Homo sapiens: one gene and its partners. The protein of the gene in region 5 interacts with the protein of the main gene of each other region in a pairwise test. Each region holds a gene or a part of one and is shown on either strand. Other genes may lie near its edges.

The links.
Region 1: the proteins of PDCD5 (region 5) and UTP14A interact in a two-hybrid assay, tested with the Homo sapiens proteins (one large-scale study listed by BioGRID and IntAct).
Region 2: the proteins of PDCD5 (region 5) and CEP126 interact in a two-hybrid assay, tested with the Homo sapiens proteins (one large-scale study listed by BioGRID and IntAct).
Region 3: the proteins of PDCD5 (region 5) and LRIF1 interact in a two-hybrid assay, tested with the Homo sapiens proteins (one large-scale study listed by BioGRID).
Region 4: the proteins of PDCD5 (region 5) and NUDT3 interact in a two-hybrid assay, tested with the Homo sapiens proteins (one large-scale study listed by BioGRID and IntAct).
Region 6: the proteins of PDCD5 (region 5) and RAD18 interact in binary tests that used the Homo sapiens proteins (3 or more experiments, as listed by UniProt).

The regions. Positions count from the first base shown.
Region 1 is NC_000023.11:129,915,012-129,920,755, reverse strand, and holds part of UTP14A (U3 small nucleolar RNA-associated protein 14 homolog A), read right to left. Parts: intron 1,582-5,744; coding exon 1,462-1,581; intron 1,362-1,461; coding exon 1,267-1,361; intron 300-1,266; coding exon 176-299; intron 82-175; coding exon 4-81; intron 1-3. UniProt on the Homo sapiens protein: May be required for ribosome biogenesis.
Region 2 is NC_000011.10:101,997,158-102,002,678, reverse strand, and holds the end of CEP126 (centrosomal protein of 126 kDa), read right to left. Parts: intron 5,081-5,521; coding exon 5,036-5,080; 3' UTR 1,617-5,035; downstream 1-1,616. UniProt on the Homo sapiens protein: Participates in cytokinesis. Necessary for microtubules and mitotic spindle organization. Involved in primary cilium formation.
Region 3 is NC_000001.11:110,950,423-110,956,166, forward strand, and holds part of LRIF1 (ligand-dependent nuclear receptor-interacting factor 1), read right to left. Parts: intron 2,394-5,744; coding exon 866-2,393; intron 1-865. UniProt on the Homo sapiens protein: Together with SMCHD1, involved in chromosome X inactivation in females by promoting the compaction of heterochromatin.
Region 4 is NC_000006.12:34,281,925-34,284,669, forward strand, and holds part of NUDT3 (diphosphoinositol polyphosphate phosphohydrolase 1), read right to left. Parts: 3' UTR 1-2,745. UniProt on the Homo sapiens protein: Cleaves a beta-phosphate from the diphosphate groups in PP-InsP5 (diphosphoinositol pentakisphosphate) and [PP]2-InsP4 (bisdiphosphoinositol tetrakisphosphate), suggesting that it may play a role in signal transduction.
Region 5 is NC_000019.10:32,582,934-32,588,941, reverse strand, and holds the end of PDCD5 (programmed cell death protein 5), read right to left. Parts: intron 3,993-6,008; coding exon 3,931-3,992; intron 3,127-3,930; coding exon 3,035-3,126; coding exon of another isoform or gene 2,903-3,034; exon of another isoform or gene 2,085-2,902; coding exon 2,013-2,084; intron 1,690-2,012; coding exon 1,642-1,689; 3' UTR 1,489-1,641; downstream 1-1,488. UniProt on the Homo sapiens protein: May function in the process of apoptosis.
Region 6 is NC_000003.12:8,952,294-8,958,037, reverse strand, and holds part of RAD18 (E3 ubiquitin-protein ligase RAD18), read left to right. Parts: intron 1-5,744. UniProt on the Homo sapiens protein: E3 ubiquitin-protein ligase involved in postreplication repair of UV-damaged DNA. Postreplication repair functions in gap-filling of a daughter strand on replication of damaged DNA.

The DNA of each region.
Region 1 (5,744 bases), on a different chromosome or scaffold from region 5:
TACCTCCAGGTCATATTTGGCCATAATTGCCTTTGACTTGGCCCATTTCCCACTGTTTTGGTGCTTAAGGCTCATTCTTTCCTAGAAAGAAAGGACAGAGTGAGATTTACATCTTTAGTGCCTTCCAAGGAAAGCTGGTTCAAAGGGGTGGGGGTGGGGCAAGAGGTAGTCTCACCATCATTCTGGCCTTTTCAATTTTTTCCAGTTCTTCTAGTGCTGCAGCTGGATTAACCTTCCGCAGCTGCTCAAACTCTTTTAGGGCTTTCTTGGCCTTTCCTTTCTTCACGACTTTGTGATACCTGTAGGGGTAGGAGGGAAGAGTTTAGCAATTTAGCTGAAGCACGGATGTCATAGGCACAAGTGCCCATACTACCCAATGGGTTCCCTAGGCAGGGGGCTGGAATGGGCATCATAGAGCTAGTTGGCTATAGGGAGTCAGTTTGGGACCTGACAGGACTGGCAAGATTCTTGGTACCCACAGTCCTCAGGGTGGACCTCTGCAGCTCAAAGAGTCTCCTTTGCCTCTATAACTCAAGGGAGGGGTAGAACAAGTTTCATTTTTTTTTTTAGACAGGGTCTCACTCTGTCACTCAGGCTGGAGTGCAGTGACATGATCTTGGCTCACTGCAGCCTCCACCCGCTGGGCTCAAGCGATCCTCCCGCCTCAGCCTCCTAAGTAGCTGGGACTATAGGTGCACATTACCATGCCTGGCTAATTTTTGTACTTTTAGTAGAGATGGGGTTTCGCCATGTTGGCCAGGCTGGTCTTGAATTCCTTACCTCAAGTGATCCACCTGCCTGAGCCTCCCAAAGTGCTGGGATTACAGGTGTGAGCCACCGTGCCCAGCCAGTTTTGCCATGTTGCCCAGGCTGGTCTTGAACTCCTGAGCTCAAGTGGTCCATCCACCTCGGCCTCCCAAAGTGCTGGGATTACAAGCATAGCCACCACACCCGGCCGAACAAGTTTCAAAGAGGCAAAAAGGCAGGAAGGAAGCCCTATTGGCCTTAACAGCTCTGGAATTCAGAGCTGATTCTGCAGAACCACTCTGTGATGCCTTGGAAGGCAGAGAAAGTAACTGAATAGTCATCTTTTTGGCAAAACTGTATGAGGTTGGTTTGGGGGGAACAAAAGGCTAGTCACTCCTGTTTGGGACCTCATCTGCATGACTCTAGTTGCTGCATCAAAGGTTCTCTCCAAAGAATTCATGATGAACCACATGACTTTCTTCTGTGGAACCCAAGGCCAGTTCACAGGGGCCTCCTTACTTTTTACTTTTGATTTTCTTCTCTCTTCGAGCCTTGGCCTCATAGTAGGACTGCAGAGCCCGAGCCCTCTGAAGCTCTGCTCGTCGCATCTTTGCCTACAACAAATGAGACTTACAGTGACACCTGGGCCAGAGGACAAATGCTAGGAGAAGCGTGGCATGCCTGGGTGTGCTGAAGGGCCTATGACACACTTACCTCTTCTAGGCTCATGGCTCGGAGAGAGGCCTTTTCCACAGGGGTCAGTAAAGGGTCTGTCACTGGCTGCTTGTTCTTATGGAGGAGGTTGAAAATTTCCTGCTCCAGGGGAGTTCTTGCCTTAAAGAAGCAACAAAACATTCTGAGTCTTAAGCCATGCTCTTACAGCTTTCTCTCTTTACATTCCTATGATTCTCTAACTTATGACACTATAATTGGAATCATAAGTGGATAGGATTGGCTGTTACAGCAAGAGAAGGGGGTTCCAGTCTTGTTGTCAGAAGTATAAATAAAGCCTTATTTGATTCTTATATAAGACAACTTCAGCAGGGAGACGCTGAGGCTACTCTCTAATACTGCTGAGGGGGATCACTGTGTTCAGGTTACCAATATATGTTTTTTTTTTTCTTTTTTCTTTGAGATGGAGTCTTGCTCTGTCGCCCAGGCTGAAGTGCAGTGGCGTGATCTCGGCTCACTGCAAGCTCCGCCTCCTGAGTTCACGCCATTCTCCTGCCCCAGCCTCCCGAGTAGCTGGGACTACAGATGCCTGCCACCACGCCCAGCTAATTTTTTGTATTTTTAGTAGAGACAGGGTTTCACCGTGTTAGCCGGGATGGTCTCGATCTCCTGACCTCGTGATCCGCCCGCCTCGGCCTCCCAAAGTGCTGGGATTACAGGCGTGAGCCACCGCGCCGGCCCAGATTACCAATATATGTTAAACTGATTTCCATTCTCTTAAGAATCTAGGCACATTGCCCTTGAGTCCCTGTATTGTTATGTATCATTTGAAGCACATAACTATTACTTTATAGTTAGGAATCTCAAATTCATATCATAAGCCTTCTTTTAGAATATTTCTAGAGGGAAGGGGCGGTTAGTTTTTTTTTTTTTTTTTTTTGTTTTCTGAGACAGAGTCTTGCTCTGTCACCCAGGCTGGAGTCCACTGGCACTCCAATCTCAGCTCACTGCAACCTCCACCTCTAGTGCTCAAGTGATCCTTCTGCCTCAGCCTCCTGCGCAGCTGGGACCACAAGTGTAAGCCACCATGCCTGGCTAACTTTTTTTATTTTTTGTAGAGACAGGGTCCTGCCATGTTGCCCAGGTTGGTCTTAAACTCCTGGCCTCAAGCCATCCTCCTGCCTTGGCCTCCCAAAGTGCTGGGATTACAGGCGTGAGCCCAGCATGCCCTGTGAGATTAGATCTTAAGATAAGCATTATTTGCCACTGATGGTATACCTAGGACATATATCTGCAAATGTCTCAGAGGGGAAGCCCAACTTTTTTTGACCATAGCCAACTGCTATAAACCATGCATATAAGTGTTCTTGGTATCATTAATTACTGATGAAAGAAAATGAGAAAAAACATGGCATTTTTTTGGCAGAGTCTTCAAATGTAGTTTGTGGTGGGGTGTGTGTCTTAATTTCTTGAGCACAAAAGGATATTGCCTGAAAAAAAATATAGGATGGGCATGGTGGCTCAGGCCTGTAATCCCAGCACTTCGGGAGGCTGAGGCAGGAGGATTGCTTGAGCCCACAAGTTTGAGACCAGCCTGGGCAACATGGTGAAACCCCATCTCTATTTATTATGTTAAAAACAAACAAACAAAAAGACCTTCATGTAATCAGCCTGTTTCCTGATGGTTCAAGTTGAACTCTCCTCATTTTCTAACTTTGGCTCCAATTCCTCAGTTTCCAGTTAATTTTACATGCTAGGCAGAGTATGTATGAAACGAATGAACTGTAAACCAGTTATTCCACATGCTATCATGAGGATGGCTAAATATTCAGGCCGATCATGCCACGGTCCACATTCTGGCAAGGCACAAAGACAGCCCTAGGCAACAGAGCTAGTTTCAAACCTCACACACATATTATGTGTGGTTTTCTTCAATAGCCATATACATCGTGGTCAGTATTAAACTTACAAATATTTGGATAAATGCATAAACGCACATCATCACATGTTACACGATGCTATTGATTTAACCATAAAACTATTCTACTGAATAGTAAAGGTATATGTTCTTCCACTTTTAGTATTTGCAGTAGTGATCAATCTCAGGCTACAAAGTGATTTATACTACAATGTTGTAATGTCCCTTCAATTCAATTCAATTTACAAACATTTATTGATTGTAGCTATATTCCAGGCACTTGTATGGGGTGCTAGGAATACACAATTGATTAAGATAGTTCCTGTCCTCATAGAGCTCACAGCCTTTGAGAGCAGAGACATATACAACACAAACAGCATAACATAATGGGTTAAATACCCTTTATGTTACCCTTAAATAACATAACTGCTACGTTATTCTATAGGGGTAATCACAGAGGAAATTACCATTAAATATTATTGGGAGGTAGGTTAGGCTTAGGGAAGGAAGTGACCTTTTGAATTAGGCTTTGAGGCCTAAGTACAATTCTGTCAGGAGGAAAAAAAATCCAAACAGATGAGCATAAGCAAAAAACACAGACACAGGGAAAGGAGTGGTATGTAATAGAACAACGTGTTGTCCAGCATAGCTAAAATGCTACGTAATTTTATTTTATTCTGTAAGTGAACAGCCTTTGAAGGATTTTAAGCAGGAGAGCAATGATCAACTGTGTTTCAGCAAGAAAATCCTGCTGATTGTGTAGAGGATATATGTAAAGTTCCAAAGGAAAGGTTCAATGAGGGCCTCGATTAGGGCAGTGAAAATGAAAATGAAGAGAAAATAGGAGCATAAGGGCTATTACAGAGACAGAATTTGCAGGTCTAGCCCCCTGTATAAGCTGGCGGAGAGGGAGACAGTGAAGGGGTCAAGAAGGAATCAAATGACTGAGGTTTCCAACCTAAGTGACTGGGGTAGGGAGTTATGCTGTTAACTGAGTTGCAGAATGAAGGGGGTGGTATAGGTTTTGGAAGTCTGGGGAAAGGAAATGCGAAGCTTACTTTGGACTGGACTAAGTTTAAGGTGCATATGGGGGACCCAGGTGATCCCTGCTAGTCACATGGAATATGAGACTGGAGCTTCAAAGAAGGGGTTGAGAGTGATAGTCGAAAGTTATGAAATTTTCACTCCTGTAATCCCAGCATTCTGGGAGGCCGAGGTGGGCGGATCACGAGGTCAGGAGATCGAGACCATCCTGGCTAACACGGTGAAACCCCGTCTCTACTAAAAAATACAAAAAATTAGCTGGGCGTGGTGGCGGGCACCTGTAGTCCCAGCTACTTGGGAGGCTGAGGCAGGAGAATGGCGTGAACCCGGGAGGTGGAGCTTGCAGTGAGCCGAGATTGCACCACTGCACTCCAGCCTGGGCGACAGAGCAAGACTCCGTCTCAAAAAAAAAAAAAAAAAAAAGTCATGGAATTTACAGAGCAAGAATAAAAAGGACTAAGGAAAGCCAGAGAGAGAAAATACCCAGAGTATATCACAGAAGCTAGAGGGGAGAGATTTTTAGAATGAAATGTGCCAATGGTGTCAAATATGCTAAAGACTAAGAGGGCTTGGGATTTGGCAATTCGGAGGCCCCTCACTAATGCCTTTTGAGAGAAGTTTCAGTAGGGCAGTAGGGGAAGAAGGTGAGAGAGAGGAGGCAGCAGTGGAGACAGACCAGCTCTTCCCCAAACACATTTCTCATCAGATAACAAGATTTGCCTCCCCTGTTAAAAGCTTAAAATTCAATTTTTTTGAAATTTTAATAAAATCAGTTTGTACACCCTAAGTTAAATTAGATCCAACAGGTGTCTTCACCATTGTTTCATAGCCTTTTTTTTTTTTTTTTTTTGAGACAGAGTCTCGCTCTGTCGCCCAGGCTGGAGTGCAGTGGCACGATCTTGGTTCACTGCAAGCTCCGCCTCCCAGGTTCATGCCATTCTCCTGCCTCAGCCTCCCAAGTAGCTGGGACTATAGGCGCCCGCCACCGTGCCCAGCTAATTTTTTATATTTTTAGTAGAGACGGGGTTTCACCGTGTTAGCCAGGATGGTCTCGATCTCCTGACCTTGTGATCCACCCACCTCAGCCTCCCAAAGTGCTGGGATTACAGGCGTGAGCCACCACGCCCGGCCCATAGCCTTTATTTTTATTTTTTATTTTTGAGACAGAGTCTCACTCTGTTGCCCAGGTTGGAGTACAGTGGCCCAACCTTGGCTTACTGCAACCTCCGCCTCCTGGGTTCAAGCGATTCTGGTGCCTCAGCCTCTTGAGTAGCTGGGATTACAGGCATAAGCCACCACGTCCAGCTAATTTTTTAATATTTTTTAGTAGAGACGATGTTTTGCCACGTTGGTCAGGCTGGTC
Region 2 (5,521 bases), on a different chromosome or scaffold from region 5:
TGGATGTGGGTGTTTACAGTGTGCCTTTCATGGGATACTTCTTTTACCTGGAGGATGGCCTAAGTCCTAGTTGCCTGACCTGACTGGGGGTCCCTCACATGGGAAACTTGTTTATACTGGCAGATGCCCTTGTGGCTCTTGTCTGATCCATGTCCAGTTTATGCCTGCCTGACCATCACTTTGGCACTGGGAGTTCAACCTTGTGCTCTCCCTGGTGTCCCCTGGTTCTTCAGATGGAAAGCACAAATTCAGTACATCACCACAATAGGAAATAAGTTCAAAGATTTTCACTTACAGATCCTGGGCAAGGAGGGCATAATGAGTCAGGAGGGCAGTCCTCTGTCCCCAGGTCATATGAGGCAGAAAGGAAGAGCCAGAGAGAAAGTGTGTCTAGCAGCATGTCTAAGGGAATGGAGTGTGGGCCACTTTAATAGGCAAATGTCTAAATGGTCCATTTAAAGAGAGGCAGGAAAGCAGGGAGTGCAGTCCGCAAGGCAGGAGAGATCCCTCTAAGTTCTTGTCACTGGCCACCAGCTTGAGCCATCTGGGTGTAATGTAGAACTGGAAATTGTGCCAAAGATGACTGAGCCCTGCTTTGGTATGAGAAAGTTAAACTTGTATTCAAAATGGATGCTGAGCAACATAAAATTGTAAGAATTCTCTATATATCTCCGACATCAATCCAGCACCAAAAGTTTTATTCTAATATTCCCCCTTTCTGGGAAAGGCAAAATAATAGAAACAAAATCCAGATCAGTGGTTGCTCAGGGCTGTATGAAGGAATTTTTGGCATGATAGGGCTGTTCTGCATGGTACAGTAGTGATGGGTATACAATGCTATGCATATGTCAACACCTACACAATTCTACAAAGAGTGAATTTACTGTATGCAAATAGGAAAAACATCCAGGATGTTGGAAGAATCCAACATGGGATACAGATTGTGACAAATGAATCTAAACTGTATTAAAATTATTCACTTGGTAAACTATCACTCCTGCAATCCTAGCGACTCAGGAGGCTGAGATGGGAAGGTGGTTTGAGGCCAGGGTTCCAGTGTAGCCTGGGCAACACAGTGAGATCCTATCTCCAAACAAAAAAAAAAAAAAAAAAAAAAAAAGAAAAGAAAAAGAAAAAAAGCTAGGCATTGCCATGCATGCCTTTAGTCCCAGATACTGGGGAGACTGAGGTAGGAGGATCTCTTGAGCCCAGGAGTTCGAGGCTGCAGTGAGCTATGAGTATGCCACTGCACTCCAGCCTGGGTGATAAAGTGAGACCCCCAACTCTTAAAAAACAAAACAAAAACCCACCACAGTGAAGGGGGTAGAGAAGAAGGAACTGGCTTTAGTGACTTTGGAAAACAGTGTGTTGACTGAATAAGTAAGATTGGGGATGAAAAGAATGATAAAAATGCTGTACTTTAGTTAGAAATCTGTTTCTCCTAGGTATGTGGATTAGCAATTCTGAAGCAAATTTTCATGTATACTAGAGTTAAATTAGTGCCTGTATTGTGGCTAATGAGTGTCAGGTTTCTCAATGTCAAAGAAAATACAAACAAACATTTTGGGAATTTTTATATTAAAAATTTACAGTTATAAAAACCAAATCACATTTAGTTATATATTTAATGAATCATTTTTATTGCAAAGGGTAAATTACATGAAATTGACAAAATTTAGTCCATGTAATATCTATCAAAATACATACATGTAAGTGTGTGTATATTTATATATGTATACAGTACAGTTTTCACAAAAAGCTTCAACATTCCTAAGAAACACAGACATAGTCATTCTGGTACAATATGGATTTAAAATAAGTTCATGGTAATCCTTCCTGATGCCAATTTTAAAATGAAGACCGTCTAAATTTTTCTGACCAGTTATTAGTTGCCCTGCCTCTCGGAAATGTGTTTAAACTTTTCTTTCAATTATTTGATACCTTTTGCCCAAGAGATTACTATCTCTCTCTTTTTTTTTTTTCTTTTAAGACAGAGTGTTGCTCTGTCACTCAGGTTGGAGTGCAGTGGCACAATTCCTGATCACTGCAACCTCTGCCTCCCAGGCTCAAACGATCCTCCCACCTCAGCCTCCCCAGTAGCTGGGACCACAGGCACATACCACCAAGCTTGGCTGTTTTCTTTTCTTTTTGTATTTTTAGTAGAGTTGGGCTCTTGCCATATTACCCAGGCTGGTCTTGAATTCCTGAGCTCAAATGATCCACCTGCCTCGGCCTCCCAAAGTTCTGGGATTACAGGTATGAGCCAGCATGTCCGGCCTGAGATTACTCTCTCTTATAAGAAGTTTCATAAGTTTTTCCACTGAGGAAAGTGATGCTTGTTTGATTTCCTCTAAATTTACTTCTTCACATTCGAAAGGAGACTCTTTTCTTCCTTAGAACTTGAAGATTCAGTGTGAAAGGGCATTTTTCTTTCTTATATTATTAAAAAAGTTACTTTTTAAAAAGTAACATTTTTATTTTTATTTTATTTATTCATTTTTGTGAGACGGAGTCTTGCTCTGTTGCCAGGCTGGTGCAGTGGTGCAATCTCAGCTCACTGCAACCTCTACCTCCTGGGTTCAAACGATTCTCCTGCCTCAGCCTCCTAGTAGCTGGGAGTAGAGGTGCGTGCCACCATGCCCAGCTATTTTTGTATTTTTAGTAGAGACAGGGTTTCACCATGTTGGCCAGGATGGTCTTGATCTCTTGACCTCATGATCTGCCTGCCTTGGCCTCCCAAAGTGCTGAGATTACAGGCATAAGCTACCGTGCACAGCCAACATTTTTATATTTTATATAGAGATGGGGTCTTGCTACATTGCCCAGGCTGGTCTCAAACTCCTGGGCTCAAGCAGTCCTCCTGCCTTGGCCTCCAAAGTGCTAGAATTACATGCATGAGCCACTGTGTCTGGCCAAAAATGTTAGTTTTCACGTTTATAGCATGCAAAGTGTTATTCTCTTCCACTTTAATTCACAAAGGCTCTTTATGTCTTCCCACTTTTATCACTCTTAATGAACCCACCCTGTATCTACTAAAATTCTGGAGGAGTCATGGGCAGAATTACAGAAGAATTCTGGTCATATGACAGTTTCATAAAAGGACAATATCATAATGTGCAAGTTCTAGTAAAATGCAAATCTTATCTTGTTTCACCAGCTTACTATTTAGGCTTTTTTTTTTTTTTTTTTTGGCCTATTCTGACTTTGGATCTTAACTATTTTCAACTATCTTTTTGCTTGTAGAGGCATTCTTTGGTTCCTAAGAGGTATTAAAGTGAGGGATTACTAACGGTGAAGCTACTTTGGCATGCAGGATGCTGCTGTGTACATATATACTAGTGTATATGAATATAAACCCTTGTCTTTTTTTTTTTTAATAAAAGTGAGTTTTCATCTGAGGTGCTTGGAATGATTCACAAACAACTTGGCACACTCTTCTGGCCTGTTTACCCCCATTGAAATGTTATTTTATAAATTACATCTTAATTCACAGAATTTTTTCTTGATAGTATAAGAAATTCTCAAATATTTTCTATAGGGGCACACAACTTTCTATTTAAATGTCTAAGAACTAAATTTTCTGTCGCCTTCCGAAATCCTATTCTTAAAATTAAAAATATAGGAAAGCACAAATGTTTCCTTCATTAGGTCAATTTTTTCACTAATTTCTTCATTTAAAAAGTGAATTCTTTTCCTGTTTTTCCTCATTTCATCCAATAGTTTCCATTTCTACTAACATGGTGTGGCAGAAAGAACATGGGTTTTGGAACTAGATAAACCTGAGTTTGAATTTTGATTCTGTCACTGTAGGTAGCTATGTGGCCTTGGCTCAGTTTCTCATCTCTAAAGTGGAGACAAAAATACCCATGGTTTGGGTGGCTGGTCAGATTAAATAAAAAATATATGCACAAAATTTGGTACATGGTAGGCATTCAACATGTTAATGCATTTCTCACTACATCAAGTGTTTCAAAACTAATTCTATGGAGGAACCAAAATTTAGTAGTGTTATTAATAAAAGGCCACATGTTTTCTTAAAACTCTTAATTTCTAATTTTGATTCATCACTTTTTTTTTTTTTTTTTTGAGGCTGGGTCTCACACTGTCACCCAGGCTGGTGTGCAGTGGCGAAACACAGCTCACTGCAGCCTCAACCTCCCAGGTTGAAGTAATCCTCCTGGGCTCAAGTAATCCTCCCGCCTCAGCACCCCAAGTAGCTGGGACTACAGGTGCATGCCACCATGCCTGGTTAATTTTTGTATTTTTTGTAGAGACAGGGTTGCCCAGGCTGGTCACGAACTCCTGAGCTCAAGCCATCTGTCTACCTCGGCCTGCAAAGTGCTGGGATTACAGGCATAAGCCAACGGCCCTGGCTTGATTCATGGCATTTTAATGAAAAATTTCATGTTTTTTCGGTATGCCAAAGTGCCATGTATGAAATATGAAATTTGGAAGAATCGATGTAATTGTACAGCCATAGGAAGGCCTCCCTTCACCATACAAAAAGGTAACCTTTGCTCTATTGCTGCCACCAAGGGCCATTTTGTGGGATGTGGTAACTTTAAGAATATTTATTACAATTAAAAAAATCAAAATATGCCATACTTCATAAACATCTTATCAGTAAGTTAGAGGTTTAATAAAGAGGTTCAATAAACAGAAATTTTATTTAACATATATTTCAACATGAAATCTATAAATTGCAAAGGAGCACTGTGAATTCTTTGGAAAAACGTTTGTTTGCTCTACTCACAAGCTTCATCCTTGTGGCATGTATTCAGAGCTAGGTTATGTCCTGCTTTTTGTTTAGGCAGGCATAATGTCTTTCATGGTATTCTCAGAACTCTGTTAAACTTCACTGCTTTGTTAAATGTCACTGCTCTGTTAAACTTCACTGCTCACAAAATCTGAGTTAGGACAAATGTTCATGGGGGTTGTTGCTCACATGTTTTCCTATGGCTGGTTTTCACAAAACGGTATGCATCTAGTCCTAGGGAAGTACATGAAAGGTCTTCTTAGACGGATTCTGCTGGAATTATCTCTTGTCTCTGCAGCTGCTGGTTCTATCTTCTCTCTTCTCCTGGAAATCAGAAAGAAGAAACAAGCATGCAAACACATGCCAAAACACTGCAGCTACAAACTAGGCTGACATGTCAAATAGTGGCATATTCAACACATCCTGACATCATTCTCCCAGGTAATGAGTTTAAGATTGCAGAGGACTTTATAGATTATTTACCTCAACCCTTACATTATGTTCATCAGTACCTTTCTACTCTAAAAGGTAAAATTCCCACTTTGAAAATGTGCAGTTTTACAATATCATTAAAAATTCAGGTTTCAGGCTGGGCACAGTGGCTAACGCCTGTAATCCCAGCACTTTGGGAGGCCGAGGCAGGCGGATCACGAAGTCGGGAGTTCGAGACCTGCCTGGCCAACATGGTAAAACCCTGTCTCTACTGAAAATACAAAAATTAGCTGTGTGTGCTGGCACGTGCCTGTAATCCCAGCTGCTCGGGAG
Region 3 (5,744 bases), on a different chromosome or scaffold from region 5:
GACATTATTTAGAAATTGTAGTCTTCTGGAAAAGTCACACATGCCTTTAATCGATCTTGTATTGAACAATCAGAATTTACCTCCTTACATCTCTGGAGTTCAATGAATTCTGTACTGAAGGGGAGAAATGCTGACATTATTGAGTAGACCTCTAAGTAAGCAAGGAAAAGATGGGTACAAATATCTAGTAAGCACACAGACAGACAAACCTTAAGTCGAACATAAAGGTAACTATGTGGGCATGTTGGGTAACTGGCTGAGGAGTCACAAAGAGCTAATAAAAAGGAAAATGAAATTTGTCTACCAAAAAAAAAATCAACCCATCAAAGATGCTGATAAAATCTTATTTCCACAAATTACTGAAAGGTATTGATTAGCCCTGTCTCACCTTTTCCATGGTATACCACCACCACCACCACAAAAAAACCCCACAAAACCCCAAAACCAACTCTTTTACATGCATATTGATCTCCTCATATACTAAAAAGGCTATTATATATGAACATACATATATACATGTATGTATATACATATACTCACATATTTTTACTAAGCTTTGAATTCACATTATCCTTCCCCAACTCTTCTAAACCTTTTTGCTCTGTGAATTTTTTGTTTTAAAGATTTGGCATGCCAAGTGATTCAAGAGAAAGACTGTACTCCTTTGTACAAGATTGTACCCAACTGTACTCCTCCTCAAATTTGCTCAGATGGAAGTTTTGACTTAAATACTCATATGTGTATAGTCTGTGTGTGATGGGGTTGGCAGTGGGGGAAAGAGGTATCATAGATAACTTTGAGAATTAAGAAAACAAACTTTTCTATATAGATATATAAAAAGAGCACCCTGACATGGGAAAATTACCTTTGGTTCTTGGTCTCTGAAAACACACTGTTGTGAAGTAACAGTTGTTGCATCAACAGAGGAACTTATTTTCTCTATGCTCTGGAGGACACTTCCTTTTCTAGCATAAATGACGGCTGTTACTTTTCTGGGGGCATTGTGTCCTGTACTAAATCCAACTGGAAAGATTGGATTTGTGAATAAAGTCTTACTCTGTTTTAAGTAGTTACTGGATTGGTTCATATGTGGATTTGTGGTAGAAGGAGATGGTTTCTCCACTTTATTCTTCTCTGCCCTTAGATTGGCCATGGAAGCAAGCTGGGTATTGGAAAGTGATTTTGTCTCCATCTGGGAAGATTTACTTTTAGCCAAAACAATATTTACAACCTCTCTGGATATTTCTGTGACTGGACTTGAACTCACTGTCTGTAACGTGTCTTTTCTTACTGGAGTATCAGGAGAAACAGAATTCTGTTGGTCAATTTGTGATGGCAGAACATCTGTCCCCTTTTTAGCCAACAGATAGACTTTCCCATTAAACATAACCAAAGCATTATCTTTAATAGGCATATTTTTGGATCGCGTCCCACTAGGATCGATGGTACTCAATGGTGGCATATTTATAGTATTATCTCCCAAATTTTTCCTATCTACAAAAGTTTTTAAAATCTTTGAAGCCACATTATTTGAAGACTTAACAGGAACAAGAGATGGCGTAAAAGGCTGTAGATTATCTTGGAAAATCCATTTCACTGGAGCAGCTTGAGAATGCTGACCACCTTTCAATTGTGTCTCTGTAGCAACATTCTTTGGAATTTGTGTGGTATTTAGTATTACTGGCTTTGCTATTTCTGTAACAGGTTTTGGGTAAATGTTTTGAAAGTTCTTGGTAACTACATTTTTCACTGTATTTACAGGAGATACATAAATAACGGTTGGCATTTGGGAGGCCTCAACCATTCCTGAGGTACTGGTGGTGGCAGTTGCAAGTATCTTTTGCTGCACTGAAGGAGGCAATGATGACGCTGGTACAGATTTCACTTCAGCATGGGCTGGAATCTGTAAATGATGCCCAGAAGGCAAAACTGGAGACTTCACAGTCACTGGAAGACTCTGGGTATTAACTACAATAAAAGATGAGTCTTTTTGTGTTGAGGGAGGAACAGCAAATGTTTGCATGGTGAGTCCATCAATTTTCACACCATGACTCTGAACTTTAGAAACTGATGAAGAAAAATTTCCAGTTCCCACAGAAGTAACTCTACCTTTTTCTGATGTATCTACTGTTCTTGTAAGAAAATAGTTTGAAGAACTGGCTGGCTGAAAAATGGGCAATTGAACTGATGCACTTGTGGAAGAGCTGGAAATCTGAGTCTGAAAAGTAACTTGAACTGGTTTTCCTGTATTCCCTTTCAAAGCATCAGACATGACTGAAGATTGAACTAGTGGTATAAGATTTCCAGAAGACTTAGGAATTGGAAGTAATTGCAGAAGATTTTTTCCATCCGAGCCAATCGTCTGAACTACTTGGTACATGCAGCCTGAAACACTTAAAAGAACATTGAGTAAATAAATACAACATACTACATGGTATATACATTTTATTTAAAAATAAATATTTGTAAATATTTGTAAATATTAAAATAAAGTATATAATTTTCCATTTTGAGTTTTTAAAGTGAAAGACTGCAAAACAAATATTTTGAAGTAGAAGAGATAATGATATAGTCAACTGCTTATATGATTAGGCAATGGGTATGAGATAATAACATTTATTCCTAAGACTAAAAGTAGACATTTCTAAGGTTTTGCCCTATATAAAATTATACTACTAAAGTAAGCTCCTCTTAAAATATTAGCATCCTCCCTTCCCCCTTTCCCTGAATTCCTTCCTCTTGTCCTCCTCCTCTACTCTAACTGAAGATTCTCATTCCCTCTCCCCTTACTCTTATTCCATTTCTCTCTTTTCCCCCTCAATCTGTTCTGTCTTCTTCCTTCAATAACTCACAAGTTCTGCCAGCCATTCTTCTTTTGCCTAAGCTATCTCTCATGGTGTTACCTTAGTTTGCCACATTTTTGTGCTATAGATTTCACTGAACTGTTTACATAGGAATCATTTTCTTCTGATTACTGTTTCAGCACATTTGAGGTTTAGTGCTACATAGTCTCTGGTATAGCAATTATTTATATTAGTCAATTGTCAATCACCTATCAACCCATACATATAATACCACTGCAATTTCAGCTGAATGGTTTTCAATCAATGTGGAACAGACTGGAAATCAATTTTTTTTAACTGAATCAATTCTGACCCCCATGCCTTGAATTATTTCTTAGTATAGACTGTCTAATCTTAAGAAAAATCAATATATACTAATCTCTGTTTGCATAATTAGTTATTTGGAGATTACTTGAATGTAAATACCTTACCTTATTTATATCTAAAACATTTTTCAGCTCCTGGGAAATATTGAGCTTTCATGTCACACATACTATCACTCTACCTAGGTACGCCTCACCCAACTCAACTCTTCACATAGCTCAAGTCTTGGCATAAATGATATTTCTCAAGAGATACATTTTCTGACCACTTTATCCTTGTCTTTCCTTCATAATTAATCCATAACATTATGCTTGTTAGCTTCCTTCATGGTATATATCATAGATTGTCATCATATATTAATATGTTTGTCTATAGACTGTCTCTCATATTATATTCTACCAATATGAGTGCAGCATCCATATACCATAGACCTAGCATGGTCTTAGATAACTAAGATCAAATAAATACAAAAGTTCAAGGGCAAATAATAACGATAATAATTAGGATTCTCAAAAGCATAAAGGTATGTTTTTAAAACTCTCAGGTATTAATAAAAATCAATACCCAAAATTCTATGTATCCGTAGAAATTTGGTTTACCTTTCTGCAGCCCGAATAACATTATTATATCCTTACAAAAATTTAAAAGTCTTTTGGACACGTGAGAGTGGGTCAAAATATTACATTGACATTTTGTTATTGTTGCTGTTGAGACAGGGCCCGGCTCTGTCATCCAGACTGGAGTGTAGGTGTACAATCTTGGCTCACTGCAATCTCCACCTCCTGGGCTCAAGCTATCCTTCTACCTCAGCTTCTCAAGTAGCTGAGACCACAGATGCACGCCACCAAACCCGGCTAATTTTTGTATTTTTTATAGAGGCAAAGTTTTGCTATGTTGTCCAGGCTGGTCACACACTGACTTTTAATAAATTAAAAGTTAACTTCTAAAGAGAATAAACCCAAAGAAAAGGATGAATTCTTGCTTTCAGGGTTTTAAGAGGAAAAATCTACCTTTATTACCTCCCTGCACCACAAGAAAAGCACATTTGACCTGGATAAGAACATATTCAATATTAAGTCATTACACAAAAATTTACCAAGTGTCTGTTTTAAGTTAAGCACCAGGCTCATCAGGAAAAAAGGGTCAGTAAGCTGTAGCCTCTGGGCCTAATCTGGCCCACTCTGTTTCTGTGCATTCTTATATTTTAATTGATTTTTAAAAATCAAAAGAGTAACAGTAGCCTCTGTAGTGGCTCCTCAGTCTTCTTTGCCAACTCATACTTTTGAATCAACTTTCAAATGTTGGGAGTTTACCAAAGCTTAGAAAGAATCCTTCTCTTCCTATTCTGTACTCTTTTGTTAGATGCTTTCTTCTCAATGCATAACTTCAATTAAATTATCACTTACGCATGAACAATTTCAATATTTCTATCTGTGGCTTCTTTGAAATTTAGGCTTATACATCCAAATTCCCTTTTAACATTTTCATTCAGAATCTCAAACGTTCCTAAAATTCAACATGGCCAGCAGATCTCTGCCCATCCTAATCCCCCCAAGTTCCATCTTCTGCAGGGTTTTCTTTGCTAAATAGCATCTCATCTACCTTAGGTGCCTTAAGTCAGAATAGATAAATCCTCCTTTCTTATTCCTTATATTCAGTGATCACAAAATCCTGTTGATATTGTCTCCTAAATTTCCTTTCATCTGTTCAATTCTCTCCAAATCAACTGTTACCACTCTACTCCAAGCAAACATCATCTCTGGCTTAGAATACTACAATAGCTTCATGACTGATTTTTTTCTCCAATCATATCTTCTACCTTTCAATTTACTCAGCACACTAAAACTGATCTTTCCCTGCTTAAAACATTGCAGTGGCCTTCCATTATTCTTAGAGTCGTAGGAAGAAAACCATTGCTTCTGATGCAATGTTAAGCCAAAGGAACAGAGGATTTTAAGAAAATTGGGCAATTATACTAAAAGTTTCTGAGATGCCAAATAGGATAAGGATTAAAAATGTACACTGAAAACAGTGCTGTGAAGATCACTGATGGCTTTAATAAGAGCAGTGTGGTAGGGGAAAGAAGTTGCTGAGGAGTGGGTATGAAGCAAGTAGACAACTCTTTTTAAACTTTGACTGTCAAGGGGAAGAGAACGACTGGCAGGAAGCTACAGGAATAAATGGAATCAAAGAAGGGATCTTTCCTTTTTCTTTGTTTAAGGTTAGATTAACCAGAACATATGTAAATACTCAAGTGAGCCAGTTCAGGGAAGAAACTGGTAATAAAGGAACAAAAGGGATACACAATGAGAAGGAGGCAGGAAATGGAAACCAGAGAGACAGGTGGAGGGACTCAACCTTAAAGAGAGCTGGAGACCTATCTCCTTCCATTGCAACACTGGAGGAGAGATTATGTGCATTTTCAGGTAAGCATACAACTTTGGGGTTAGGAGGCTGAGGTAATTCTCATTTAATGGGTTTTATTTTCTTTATGAAAAATCACATGACATCATCTGCTAAAAGTAAGAGCAAAAATATGGAAAGATTTGAGGATAATCAAAGATTGGAACAGTCTTC
Region 4 (2,745 bases), on a different chromosome or scaffold from region 5:
CTCATTAAGCAAAGGCCCTCCAAGTCTCCTTTTTACTTCAGCACTTTGGAAACTCTCCAAGACTTAACTTCCGATCTGGGGAGGTTCTACGTGGAGCAGACCTATCCCTTCTTATTCCTGTTCCTGGGTGTCTCCATAATCAGCCTCTACCTTCCCTGGCATAAGTCATATCTGTTATGCTGCAGGAACTGAGTAACCAAAGCTAGATATCCCTTGGACCACTGATTAGTGACACATTTTCTCCACAACAAAGGGAGGTTAAAGACAAAGGTTTAACCTGAGAAACTTTTTTTTTGGCAAGATAATAAAGAGGTTAAAGAGGCTACGTGGATCTGTCACTGCTTTAGCTTACCATTTTCAATTCAGCACCAAAGTGCTCAGAAAGACAGGCTCAGATCAGGACGACTTCTTAAAGGGATTCACAGGCAATATTACTGGCAAAATGATTTTCCAAAGCTGAGCCACGCGCCCCACCCTACAGGGAGGGGAGTAGAATCTTATGGCCCAGCATTGGCATTGAGGCATCTTGCTTTTTTTCCTCAGAATTCCACAAAGGCTTAAGAGTGATCTAAATGCCTGGCTGGAAGCTCAAGTCTAGGAGAGCTATTTTACTGCACTGTTGAGATGTTCTCTGCAAGGTAGTCACAGATAATAAGCAATTTAGTAGATAATTATTCTATACAAGAATTAATGTTCTCTGAAACAGTGATTAATAGAATCTTCACATCTGGCCTGGCTGGGAGGCTTGGGGGCAGGAAAGGGAGGGTGGAAGGATGGGTAGCACATCAAAATGGTGATGAACCTGGCAAAACGACAATGCTGCTGTTTTTGTATCCTTTAAAGCCTATATCCAGGGTTTTAAATGACGCTTTTTTTGTGTGCTTCCTGATAGGAAGTCAAATAAGTTTTAGTATTAAGAACTGGGGATATAAACCAAAGGAAACCTAGAGTCAACTGACTGCTGGAGGAACAGAAGCAATGACTTCTTTCCACCTTCTAGATAGTAATCTTACTTTTGTTGGCTAAAAGCACTTTCTTCAGCATTCTGAGTTAACACGGGTTCCCTATAAGCTCCCCTCCCCAGGTGGACAGTCTTATTTTCTAAGACAAGCTCAAAGCTCAAACTCACCAAATTACCACTATAAACAAAGCTTCAGGGAAGAGACATAACCTTACTTCAAAAGCTTCAGGTCAGAGACAGCCAAAATCATGTGACTGCTAGCCTCAGCTCAAGTAGTGTGCCCAAATCATCACAAAATGGGATTCCCTTCCCTTTTCTTTTTTTTTTTTTTTTTTTTGAGACGGAGTCTTGCTCTGTCGCCTAGGCTGCAGTGCAGTGGCGGGATCTCGGCTCACTGCAACATCCACCTCCTGGGTTCAAGCGATTCTCCTGCCTCAGCCTCCCGAGTAGCTGGGACTACAGGAGCGTGCCACTACACCTGGCTAATTTTTGTATTTTTAGTAGAGATGGGGTTTCACCATATTGGTCAGGCTGGTCTTGAACTCCTGACCTTGTGATCCACCCGCCTCGGCCTCCCAAAGTGCTGGGATTACAGGCGTGAGCCACCATGACCAGCCCTCCATTTATTAATTTATAAGGGGACTAGAAGGACAAACTATTTGATTAATTTGAAGGTGAGAGGTATCATTTTCTCAGATGCTCCAACTAGGCTTCTCACATCCCTCAAAGGTTATCAGCTAAAGACAAGAGTTTCTGAGGCTAATGCAAAAACATGGTCAAATGTGAAACCGCCCTTTTAGAGGCAGGGTTTGTGAAAGGCTGCTGGCCTCCAAAGGAGAGTATGCCTAAACTCTCTGGGCTCCCAGGACCTGTGGTGACCTCAAGCTAACCTGATGCACAGACAACAGTATCTTTTAGGGACTGCAGCCAATGTTCCCCAATTTACTTTTTTTTTATACCTTAAAATATCAAATGTTTCATTTTTAGGTGATATCCCAAGTGACACAGAAACACAGCTCCTCCGGATGGTGAAGTCTCCGCTGCAAAACTCACGAAACAGCACAGAGGATGACTCTAGGGTGCTCTCCCACTTGCTCCAAGTTAGGCAGGTGCCCTGATGGAGGCAAGGCTGAGCCATTAACATGCACAGCTCCATATCCTGGAAGCCTCTGTAGCCTTGAGGAGATAGGCTCTATCCAACAGGACTCAGAATAAATGACTGCCACCTCAACTGAGCAGTATGAACTGCCCACCTCAACTGGGCAGTCTGACCTCTTCCACAGTCTTTAAGAAACAGAAGAGCCATTTGCATTATTTAATCACCATTCAATAATCTCCTCCCTCCCCATAGCTGCTTGAGTTAACTGTCCCACAAGTGTCCTGTGTTTTGTAAAGATGAGGGTTATTTTCTGAAATGCAGATGGGACTAGGATGAAGCTGTATTATCAATTACAGAGACAGCCAACTCTCATTTCTCTTAAAGCAAAAATTCATTCCACTGTGATTTCTCCAGGTATTTCCTGCAATTCTAAATCCGCCCTTGATATTAGAGAATATTAAAATCACACAGTTGTGGCAAAAATCACATTGTGGCTATTAAATCCTTTTTGTGAACTAAAAAAAGTGAATGTGGCTTAGGCTAAGCTGTTTTTTTTTTTTTTTTTTTAAAGATGAGGATGCGGACTCCAACAAAGGCATTAAGAAAGTACTAGATGAAAATGAGAAATATGTGAAGGATAACATGTGAAATGTACACTCAGGTCTAACAAATACCTATTATTTCT
Region 5 (6,008 bases):
CTGACTTCAAACTATACTACAAGGCTACAGTAACCAAAACAGCATGGTACTGGTACCAAAACAGAGATATAGATCAATGGAACAGAACAGAGCCCTCAGAAATAATGACGCATATCTACAACTATTTGATCTTTGACAAACCTGAGAAAAACAAGCAATGGGGAAAGGATTCCCTATTTAATAAATGGTGCTGGGAAAACTGGCTAGCCATATGTAAAAAGCTGAAACTGGATCCCTTCCTTACACCTTATACAAAAATCAATTCAAGATGGATTAAAGACTTAAACGTTAGACCTAAAACCATAAAAATCCTAGAAGAAAACCTAGGCATTACCATTCAGGACATAGGCATGGGCAAGGACTTCATGTCTAAAACACCAAAAGCAATGGCAACAAAAGCCAAAATTGACAAATGGGATCTAATTAAACTAAAGAGCTTCTGCACAGCAAAAGAAACTACCATCAGAGTGAACGGGCAACCCACAAAATGGGAGAAAATTTTCACAACCTACTCATCTGACAAAGGGCTAATATCCACAATCTACAGTGAACTCCAACAAATTTACAAGAAAAAAACAAACAACCCCATCAAAAAGTGGGCGAAGGACATGAACAGACACTTCTCAAAAGAAGACATTTATGCAGCCAAAAAACACATGAAAAAATGCTGACCATCACTGGCCATCAGAGAAATGCAAATCAAAACCACAATGAGATATCATCTCACACCGGTTAGAATAGCAATCATTAAAAAGTCAGGAAACAACAGGTGCTGGAGAGGATGTGGAGAAATAGGAACACTATTACACTGTTGGTGGGACTGTAAACTAGTTCGACCATTGTGGAAGTCAGTGTGGCAATTCCTCAGGGATCTAGAACTAGAAATACCATTTGACCCAGCCATCCCATTACTGGGTATATACCCAAAGGACTATAAATCATGCTGCTATATAGACACATGCACATGTATGTTTATTGCGGCACTATTCACAATAGCGAAGACTTGGAACCAACCCAAATGTCCCACAATGATAGACTGGATTAAGAAAATGTGGCACATATACACCATGGAATACTATGCAGCCATAAAAAATGATGAGTTCATGTCCTTTGTAGGGACATGGATGAAATTGGAAATCATCATTCTCAGTAAACTATCGCAAGAACAAAAAACCAAACACCGCATATTCTCACTCATAGGTGGGAACTGAACAATGAGAACACATGGACACAGGAAGGGGAACATCACACTCTGGGGACTCTTGTGGGGTGGGGGGAGGGGGGAGGGATAGCATTGGGAGATATACCTAATGCTAGATGACAAGTTAGTGGGTGCAGCGCACCAGCATGGCACATGTATACATATGTAACTAACCTGCACATTGTGCACATGTACCCTAAAACTTAAAGTATAATAACAAAAATAAAAATAAAAAAAGCTTTTGGTAGGAAGGGGAAAAATTCAAAACACAGATCTGGCCACTTGGCTATGATACTAAAACAACTTACCCAAATGTTTTATTTTGCATAACAAGTTTATTTTTTTAAAAGGCATATAGACAATAAACAAAGTAAATAATCAGATCTTAACTTCTGTCCTAGACTTGTTCCGTTAAGTTCTAGTCTGTGAGCACTTGTAGTTCAATAATCGTCATCTTCATCAGAGTCCATTACTTTTCTTCTGTTGAACTGGGAGGAAAATTAAATGAGTGTCAGAACATTTCTAATAAAGCATAACTCAGATTTTCCGAGAAAAGATTTCTACCAATTTTAGCAAGACATTTGTGTCTTTAAAGCAACTTAGCGTGAACTAAAAGGGTGGGAATGGAGTCAAGAGCCTATAAAAATTAGAACCCTCCCCCAACAGATTCAGCCTTTCTCCCCAAACTTTCACGTGTTTGACAAAAGGAAAATGTCTCTGGGCTGAAAAATATGTGTGGTAGATGTATACTCAACATTAATCTTTAAAGTATCCATCTTTTCATTTGCCACAAGCATCTGGGGACACTTACTTTCACTGTTGTTGTCTTTTCTGTTTGTTGGCTTACTTTTTTAAGGATTTCTATTAAACCTTGTTCTGATACCTAGGAGAACCAGAAAAGATAAGAAAAACAGTACTTTTTTAAACAAAGAATTTACCTCTGCAGATGGAATCACTTTGTACTCTTTTTGAGGTGTGGGGAAAGAGCTCAGGAAGGAAGCAGTGGTGAGGCAGGAGGTTGAAACTATTGGTTATAACTATTGGTTTAAGTTCCAAATAAAATTTGCTCTGCTATTCCTCACTTGAGAAGGAGGGGGAAGTATCCATAAAATTGCTTCCTCAGGAAAACTGAAAGCTAACATATTTAAGAACACCTTTATCATCACTAGCTGAGTGTGACAACCACATATACCACGGTGTTTGGTGTCAGGAATAGACACACCACTTCTGCCCGAGAAGCTTAAACATCCCCTTGAAGGAGGTAAGTCACACTCGGAAAAGATCAACCCAACCAGCTCTCTCCCACACAAGCAGTTCTCAGTGTGAGGGGTTTAGGGGACAGGACCAATTCGGGTAGGCTGTGGTGGTAGCAGACGGCTTCTCAGGGCAGGTGGGGTTCGTCTTGATCTCAAAGGCCAGGTTTGCCACAACATACCCCTCATGGTATTACAGCAACACAGAGAACATAAGCAAGGCATCTTAGCACCTTCTCATCTGCAAAACACACCTTCTACTTACACTGGTAGTATTTTAATTGGTGTTACTGACAAACCTTGCTTCCAGTGCAGGGGCAATTGAAGCTAGCTGACCCTAACAGTCATTGGGTCACAGACACCAACAAGGTTCCAGAGCAACGCCAGGAAAGGAGCGAAGCAGAGGAATTTAGGAAAGGCAATTTATTCTCTTTTAAAGTAGGTATGACTATTCTCTCCAACAATTTCTTCTGAGAGTCAGCAAGAATTCTGTAATCCAGTGAAGATGCAGCTGACCTTTTGAAGCCATGTTTTGATAAAGCAGGTAACAGTAAAGTTCCTCAAGGCTGTCTAAGCTTACCTTCTCACTTAGTTGTCCATATCTTGCCATCTGTATAAGGTAATTCTCTACTGCTTTAGTTTTTTCAGGCTTTACAAGTGCTAAGTTACTTACTAAAAAGAAAAAATACATATGCAAAAAATCCATTAAAATCAAATGCACTTATGTTATACCTTAAAACTATGCATTGACCTTTCCAAAGCACTTCACAAGCTTGTCCCTCAGTGTAGGGCAAGACAGTATTGTTACTCCTCTTAAAAATGAGAAAACTGAAGTTCACCCATGCCAATCTCCACATGGGCACATGGGGGTAGTGGCCCAGCCAAGATTAAAGTTGGGTTCTCAGATTCTAAGCACCATGCTTCCTGTTTCTTAAAATATATGACTGCCCTCTGGAAAGCGGTTTATCTATTACACATAATGGTGGTGATCCACCTGTGGCCGCCTTTTCTACACTCAAACTGGGCTTCCAGTTAAAATACAGAAAATACCAGTTCATTCTGACTGTCTCATTTTTTCTTTCTACAGGTTTTGGTTTTTATGATGAACAACTCTGAACATACACTAAAACTGACAATACATATAAAAAGCCCCTAAGTCCCCCATCCCCAGTCCCCATCACCAGTTGACACAAAATGTCAACTACCAGCAACATTTTGTGATTGGCCCTATGAGTTGTTTCCTATAAATCTTACCTAATACACACCTGGAGAACATCTTGGTAAGAGAAGTGACCTGGTACTTTTACTAGGGATTAAAGTACAGTTCTCTAGGTTTATAAACTTCACACTTCTTACACATCTCAAGTGTTTTCAGCCTAAGCAAATATTTCATCTAGTGATAGCAATAATGGTATCTAATCACCCCATTCAACTAACTCAAGCTAACTTTATGGAAATGAAATCAAAGATGCTTACACCTGGCCCGGGCCGACTGATCCAGAACTTGGGCTAAGATACTGTTTCTCATTTCTGCTTCCCTACAACGAAAACATAGGTCAAACACAATTAAAACACAGCTGTCGGCATTCCCATGTAACATACGAGAAAGAACCCATCCAGTATGTGTCTCCACATGGGGCCTGCGGTATACAAACTGCATTATGGTAGTTGCTGTACATAAGGCTGCAGCTACATTCAAGTAGAATCCCCTTTTGCCCTCAAAGAACCAGCTTTATATTACACAGGTGACAACCTACCAGGCTGGAAGGTGAGCTTTACAGTTTCATCAGAGTGGAGCCTCAGTTCAAACACCATCACCAACATTTCTTAAGTACCTATTGCGTGACAGGTGCTAGAAATTTATAGTGGGATTTCAGGCAATTAGAAGGACCATGTGACTAATCTATATCATTTTCTTAGAGATAAAGCTGAGATCCAGGAGGCTATGCTAAAGAGACATAGGTAACTGTGGCCAAGCTACAGCCAGATTCCATGTTTTAAGACTCTCAGTTCTATTTTTCTGGGTGGGGAAGGGGAATGAAATTATAACTTTGCAACTATCCTCACTTCTTCCTACCTACCCAAATAGAAAGTAGTTCACGTTCACAGGACAGTGGTCTCATGGACTTGTTTCTTTTTTCTTTCAAATGAAATCCTTTAAGAAATCTAAAAACAAATGAGCACAGATGCTTTGGCTCAACTGAGAGGGAGAGCTGGGGCTGGCTGTGCCCACTATCCACTCCCAGCTCAGAGGCCCTTCGGTTCATGGAATGTGGCTTAAAGCTCATTTCCATAGGCCACTTCTTTATGGTTTGAGTACTGCAGCCCTGCCACAAACTTTAAGAGATGGGGTCTAGGCCAGGCATGGTGGCTCATGCCTGTAATCTCAGCACTTTGGGAGGCTGAGGTGGGTGGATCACTTGAGGTCAGGAGTTTGAGACCAGCCTGGCCAACATGGTGAAACCCCATCTCTACTAAAAATACAAAAATTAGCCGGGCATGGTGGCGGGTGCCTGTAATCCCAGCTACTTGGGAGGCAGAGGCAGGAGAATCGCTTGAAGCTCAGAGGCAGAGGTTACGGTGAGCCAAGATTGTGCCACTGCACTCCAGCCTGGGTGATGGAGTGAGACTTCATCTCAACAACAATAAAAAAAGATGGGGTCTCACTCTGCTGTTCATGCTGGAGTACAGTGGTGCAATCACAGCTCACTGCAGCTATGATCAGCTCAAGCTCCTGTGCTCAAGTGATTCTTCCCCCTCGGCCTCCTGAGTAGCTGGGTCTACAGGCTTCAGTCACCACACCTGGCCTGCCACAAACTATTATATCACAGAACCCTAAGATGCCATCAATTCTAAGATACACCATAGTTTTACGTATCTCTAAAAATGAAAAACCCTAAAATGAGAGGTCTAATAGAGATCTCCATTCAAAACTGGGGTTTCTCGGGAGGCCAAGGTGGGAGGATCACTTGAAGCCAGGAGTTTGAGACCAGCCTGGGTGATATAGCGAGGCTATTAAAAAAAAAAAAAGTTTAAAAAAATTAGCCAGGCATGGTGGTGCACGCCTGTCATCTCAGCTCCTCAGGAGGCTGAGGTGGGAGGATCACTTGAGCCCAGCAGGAGTTTGAGGCTGCAGTGAGTTCTGATCCCACCACTGGGGTATCAAAGAGCAACATTCTCAGTACAAAGTAAAGAATAAATAAATATGCCATGCAGTAAGGGGCAGTACAAAAGCTTGCATGCACCTGGCCCTGACGTAAAGAAGAAAAAAGTTCAGTCTTACAGGGTTGCTGTCTGAATTCACACTACTAGGCAGGAGGCAGGGGAAAACCTCAAGCAGAGAATTTAACTTTCAATGGTCTCAGAAATGTACTCAAGTGATAGCAGAGTCAAAAGTAAATCCCCTCTGGAAGAATCTGGGGCAAGAGCAATCTGTTTTAAAAGGCATCCTGATTTCAGATATGTGACAATGAAAAGATGTACACGGCAGAAATCAATGAAATTTGCGTCGTTTTACTTCCTATCACTACTCCAGATACTTCTCACCGTCTGTC
Region 6 (5,744 bases), on a different chromosome or scaffold from region 5:
ACATTATGAGTCCTTAACAATGTTAGTTTTCTTCCAGACAAGATTCACATTAAAAACCAAGATAAGTTTTGGAGATTGTTTTAAAATATATTTTAACATCATCTTTATTTGGGTGTAATTTACATACAATAAAATACATCCATTTTAAGTGCACATTAAGGTATAAAAGTGTTCATGAATTTTGACAAATGTGTATGCTGTGTTACTACTGCAATTAAGATACTGAACATTTTCATTATCTGATAAATTTCTCCCCATCTCAGTCAGTATGACCTCAGCTAGCCATCTGTAGTCTATTTCTGGACTCTTCTATTCCATTGATCTTAGAAACTTAGTAGTTTTTCACCAAAACTACTGCCCACTAAAACCAATTGTTTAGGCCTAAGTTTACTGTTGCTTTAGCTTTCCAAGATAAATCAACTTGAAAATAGAGAACAGGAAAGAGCATGAACCTAAATAATCTGTAAACTGTTTGTCTAACTCCTGAACAATGATAGGATAACCCCTATTGCAGTAAATACCTCAAGGTACAATATTTTAAAATGCTTATATGCTAGACTCATATATGTCTATCCTTGTGCCAGTACCACACTATCTTGATTACTGTGGCTTTGTAGTAAGTCTTGAAGTCAGGCATTGTAAGTCCTCCAACTTTTTTTTCTTCGTTTTTTTTAGGATCGTTGCATTTTAAATGCATTTCCATGTATAACTTAAAATCAGGTTGTCAATTTCTACCAAAAGCCTGCTGGGATGTTCACTGGAATTGTATTGAATCTAGAGATCAATTTGGGAGAATTGACATCTTAACAATGCCGAGTCTTCAGTGTATGAATATGATACACTTCTCTATCTTTATTTCTCTCAACAGTGTTGTTTGATTTTCATTGCACAGACCTTGCACAAAGAAATATAACTTATATTGACCTTTCGTCTTCTGACTGCAGTAAATTCACTTTAATTCCAGCATCTTTTTTGTTGATTCCTTAGAAATTTTTGCATACACAATCATGTCATTTGTGGATAAAGACAGTTTTACTCATTCCTTTCTGATCTATATGCCTTTATGTTTCTTTTTGTTACACAGGCTGGTACCTCAACTACAGTGTTGAAAGTGGTGTGGAGGGACATCCTGTCCTTACTCTTAATTTTTTGGGGAAAGCATTCAGTCTTTTACCATTAAGTATGATGTTAGCTGTAAGTTTTTTTTATATTCTTAATATGTTTTCATAAACCTACCAAGTTGAGGCACTTCTCTACCCCTGGTTAGGCGAGAGGATTTTTTTTTTTAAATCATGAATGGGTGTTGAATTTTGTCAAGTATTTTCTGCAGTTATGGAGATGCTCATATGATTTTCTTCCTTTATTTTGTGACATAGCTAATAACGTTGTTTTTGTTTTGTTTTGTTTGGGAGACAGGGCCTCACTCCCTCACAGTGGCTTTGTTACAGACTGGCTTTGTACTGTAGTCCCCCCTTATCTGTGATTTCAGTTACCTGTGGTCAACTGCATTCTGAAAATACTAAATGGGAAATTCTGGAAATAAATAATTCATAAGTTTTAAATTGCACTCTGTTCTAAGTAAAGCACTGATGAAATCTTGTGCCGTCCTGCCCAGGATGGGAATCATCCCTTTGTCAAGTGTGTTGATGTTACATATGCTATCTACCGTTAATCGTTTAGTGACCATCCTGGTTACCAGATTGACTGTTGCAGCATGGCAGTAATTGTCACTGTGTTGCAGAACACAGTAATTGTGTCAAGTAGCGCTTATTTTACTTAATAGTAGCCCCAAAGCACAAGAGTAATGATGCTGGCAATTCGGATATGACAAAGAGAAACCATAAAATGCTTCCTTTAAGTGAAAAGGTGAAAGTTCTTAACAAGGAAAGGAAAGAAAATTGTATGCTGAGGTTGCTAAGATCTACAGTACCATCTACAGTACAGCACAAGATATTTTGAGAGAAAGACCACATTTACATAACTTTTGTTATAGTATATTGTTTTAATTCTATGTTATTGTTATTGTTCCTAATCTCTTACTGTGTCTTATTAATAAATTAAACTTTATCATAGGTAAGTATGTATAGGAAAAAACATAGTATAAATAGGATTCAGTACTACCTGTGGTTTTAGGCATCCACTGCGCTTTATGGAATGTCTCGCCTGTGTATAAGGGGGCACTACCATATAGAGAAAGATCTTTACTAGTCAGCTTGACTGCAGATTCTAGGGGCTTCGTAAGCCTTTTCTGTGGATGTGTCTTCCCTGGACTTGTGATTATAAATTTCCAAGCCGAGAGATTTGGTCAGTTTTTTCATTAGCTGCTGTTTTTCTCTCTCATGTGTCTGTCCATGGTATTGCAGGTTCTCCAGAGTTGCTGTAAGCCATCAGCCTCTTTTTTTGTTTTCAGCTGCCCTCAAGCATCTAAAGTATGCTGATCCAAAGCACCCCAAGTTGAGTGAGACAGAAACCATTCCCTTAGGCAGTCCTTTGAAAAGTTCAAATGTTGGTCACACACTCCACTATTCTCTCCCAGCCTCCCCTCCCAAGATAAGCCGCAGAGCTATATCAGCCTCTGTCTGCTCTATGGGTCCTGTGGATCAGTAGCAAGCAACCCAGCTTTTTTTTATTCTTAGCAGTCCCCAGTCACCTAGAACATGCAGGGTTCATGCTTAGTGGGGTGAGACAGAAGCCAGTCCTCTGGCCAGCTCTTGGAAAAGCTAGAACATTGGACCGTGTTTCCCTTCTTTCTCTCCCCAGGCAGAAAGTTGGGGGTTTCTCTTCCTTGCTGAGCCTGGGGGAGGCACACTGGCCAGTGAGTGTGGTACTAGTCCAGACCTTTGCTTTTGTTCTCAGTGGCCCTCAACCTGGTTCCCTTTTCTGTCAGTGTATAGATTCAGGCAGCTCAGAAACCAGTTTCTCAAGTAGCCCCCGCAATGTAAGTGCTAGTCTTCTGTTTCTCTCCCTAGGGATACATGTTGTTTGCTCACTTCTTCATGACTTATAGCTGTCACTTATGCCATTCTTTAAGAGGAAGTCAGTGGAGGGAAGTTTCAGTAATGATGATTTTTTATTTTATGAGCACTTTTTTTTCACTTGTGAAGTCTCAGTATTCAGTAGGCCTCTTCTACTAAACACCAGTTGTCACAAGTCCCGTCATGTCTAAAATTTGCTCTGGGTCTTTAGTGTTTTAATGACACAAAACCCCCAGGGCTGTAGTGGAAGCCAGGTCTGTCATGTTCTGGTATCATCTTGGATTGACTAGAATTGGTGATCCAGAATCCTAGGTATTTATTGTTGCTTCTTAGATTTTTCATGATTTATCATTTTTAAATCACTTTATTTTGTTTTGTTCTGTTTAGGTTTTTGGATATGAGTAATAAACACTACATTTGTAGTTCTGCAGGTACAAAGGTGTGAGTGGGGTGCCTTGGCAGAATGCAGGTCAATTAAATTGATCCAAATTTGTGCTATTAAAGAGTATTTTGGGGGCGAGAGGGAGCAGACTTACTCCAACCCATAAAACACCATTAAGTGAGAAATGGTCTTGCTAATAGACTAATATGCCCAAGTGCCAATTTTCTTTGCACTTGCTATAATTTTTCTCACTTCATAATGGAAGATGATCAAAATATTTAGCAATTGGCTGGCTTTCAAACATCAAAAGAGTCTAGCATCTTAATAGTAAAAAGGAAATTTCTAAAACTTAAATGAATCCTTGTCATGTGAAATCTTAAGGACTTTATGAAAGAAGGAACTTTTTAGAAAGAAACATCTAAAGTGTCCAGTTAAAAGCAAAAACCAGTGTGAAAAGAACAGGAGGTCCAAGAAAGCTGAAAAGGTTGGCATCTGCCTCCAGTTCTAATGTTAAGGGACAGTTAGTTGGTAAGAGAATAACATCCCTCCAACTAAAGACTAGCATTTCAGAATTTCCAGAAGTGCAGCTCTGCATAATTATATCTCCCTTTTGTGTGTGTAGCTATTTCTCTTCTCCTCTGCCTTGTTTCACAGTGCTACTTCATGAGAATATAAAAGAAGATAAACACGTTTATTATTTGCCTAATAGAATCTTATGTTGTCTCTTGAATTAGCAAAGGTTTCGTAAGGGGAACATTTCATATTTCAGTTTGTTTTAAAAAATGAAATAAAATTGCTTTTTACTTCTACACAAGCTTTGATTAATTTTTTTTGAGTCAAAATCCACAAAAGGAAAAAAAAAAAAGATTGCTGGCCAAGCTTTAAAATAGTGGTAATTTATCAGTGTCCACAAGCCAATTATTTTATCTAGGATCTTGCTTGGGATTAGAGATGCCCCCTCTCCCAAGGCTTGGATATTTCTGTGAAACTACTCTTTAATTCATTGTTGTTATTGTACCTTCCTCCACTCTGCCCACACATCTTTTTTGGGCTCTCTTGGATGGAAAGACAAATTTCATAGGTGATTTAAATGAAGCCCTCTGGGAATACATGAATTCAAAACTCTTCAGCTGTTCTTCTTTGAATGGAAGGGTTGTCATAGTTGCCCACTAGAGAATAAATTATGCTGGTCTGCAGCTTACCAGTACATATTTGGTAGTAGTCTAGTAGAGTGAAATTAAGCCTAGGGCTTGATCTACTTAGGACTCCATATCTGGTTCTCCTCATTTCAAAAGAAAAGAAGAGGAAAGATATACAAGATTATGCAGAAGAGAAAGCAGTAGCCTTATTATAAATACTAATTTAAAAGGTACATGTGACCTTATTAATTAAATGTTATTTATTGATGTATACATAATATATATAATGTATACTTATATAGGTACAATTACATATATAATAATGTATACACTATATTGTATAAGTATACATTATATAACTATACATAGTACATATTTATATAAGTATACATTATAGTATAAATGTACAGTATATATTTATTATAAACAAATGTTTATAGATATAGTCAGTCCCTGACTTACCATGATTTGACTTAGGATTTTTCAACTTTACGATGGTGTGAAAGCGATACACATTCAGTAGAAACCATACTTTGAATTTTGAATTTTGATCTTTTCCCAGGCTAGAGATAGGTATATTAAATACATTTTGGCTTATGATATTTTCAATTTATGATGGGTTTATCGGGATGTAATCCCATGTTAAGTCAAGGAGCATCTGTAATTTTTAATAATTAATATATTAAGAGTCTGGACTCTGGTGCTTTCCTTTGCCACATATTAGTTCCATTATCTTTGGCAAGTTGGCTGAGCCCTGTGCTTCATTTTTCTTCTTGTCAAATGTGACTAACATTGGTACCAACCTCAGGGTTGCTGTGAGGATCGAAAGAGTTAATACATGTAAAGTGCTTAGAACAGAGCACATACTAAGTGCAGTGTTTATTTGAACCACATGAAATTGCCAATATTTGTCCATTTTTGACTTAACCAAAAATGTCAGTTTCATATAATTCAACTTAATAGTGACAACTTATTAATTTTTTAAAAATTGTTGCCATTGTTGAATCAATATTACATATTAAGAATGTGATTTACTGACCAAAATCCATTGAATCACTATGACTGGGGATACAGCCTGGGAAACTAAGTTAAAACCAGCATAAATCTCCCTAGGTGACTGAGCTGAGCAGCTAGGTTTTAGGATTTCTTGACTTACAGTATTGCTCAGGAGACTTCTTATAGTATAAAGAGAACAGCATTGATAATTAAGAGAATGAGTCTGGACAGGAATTTTTGCCTCAGGATGAT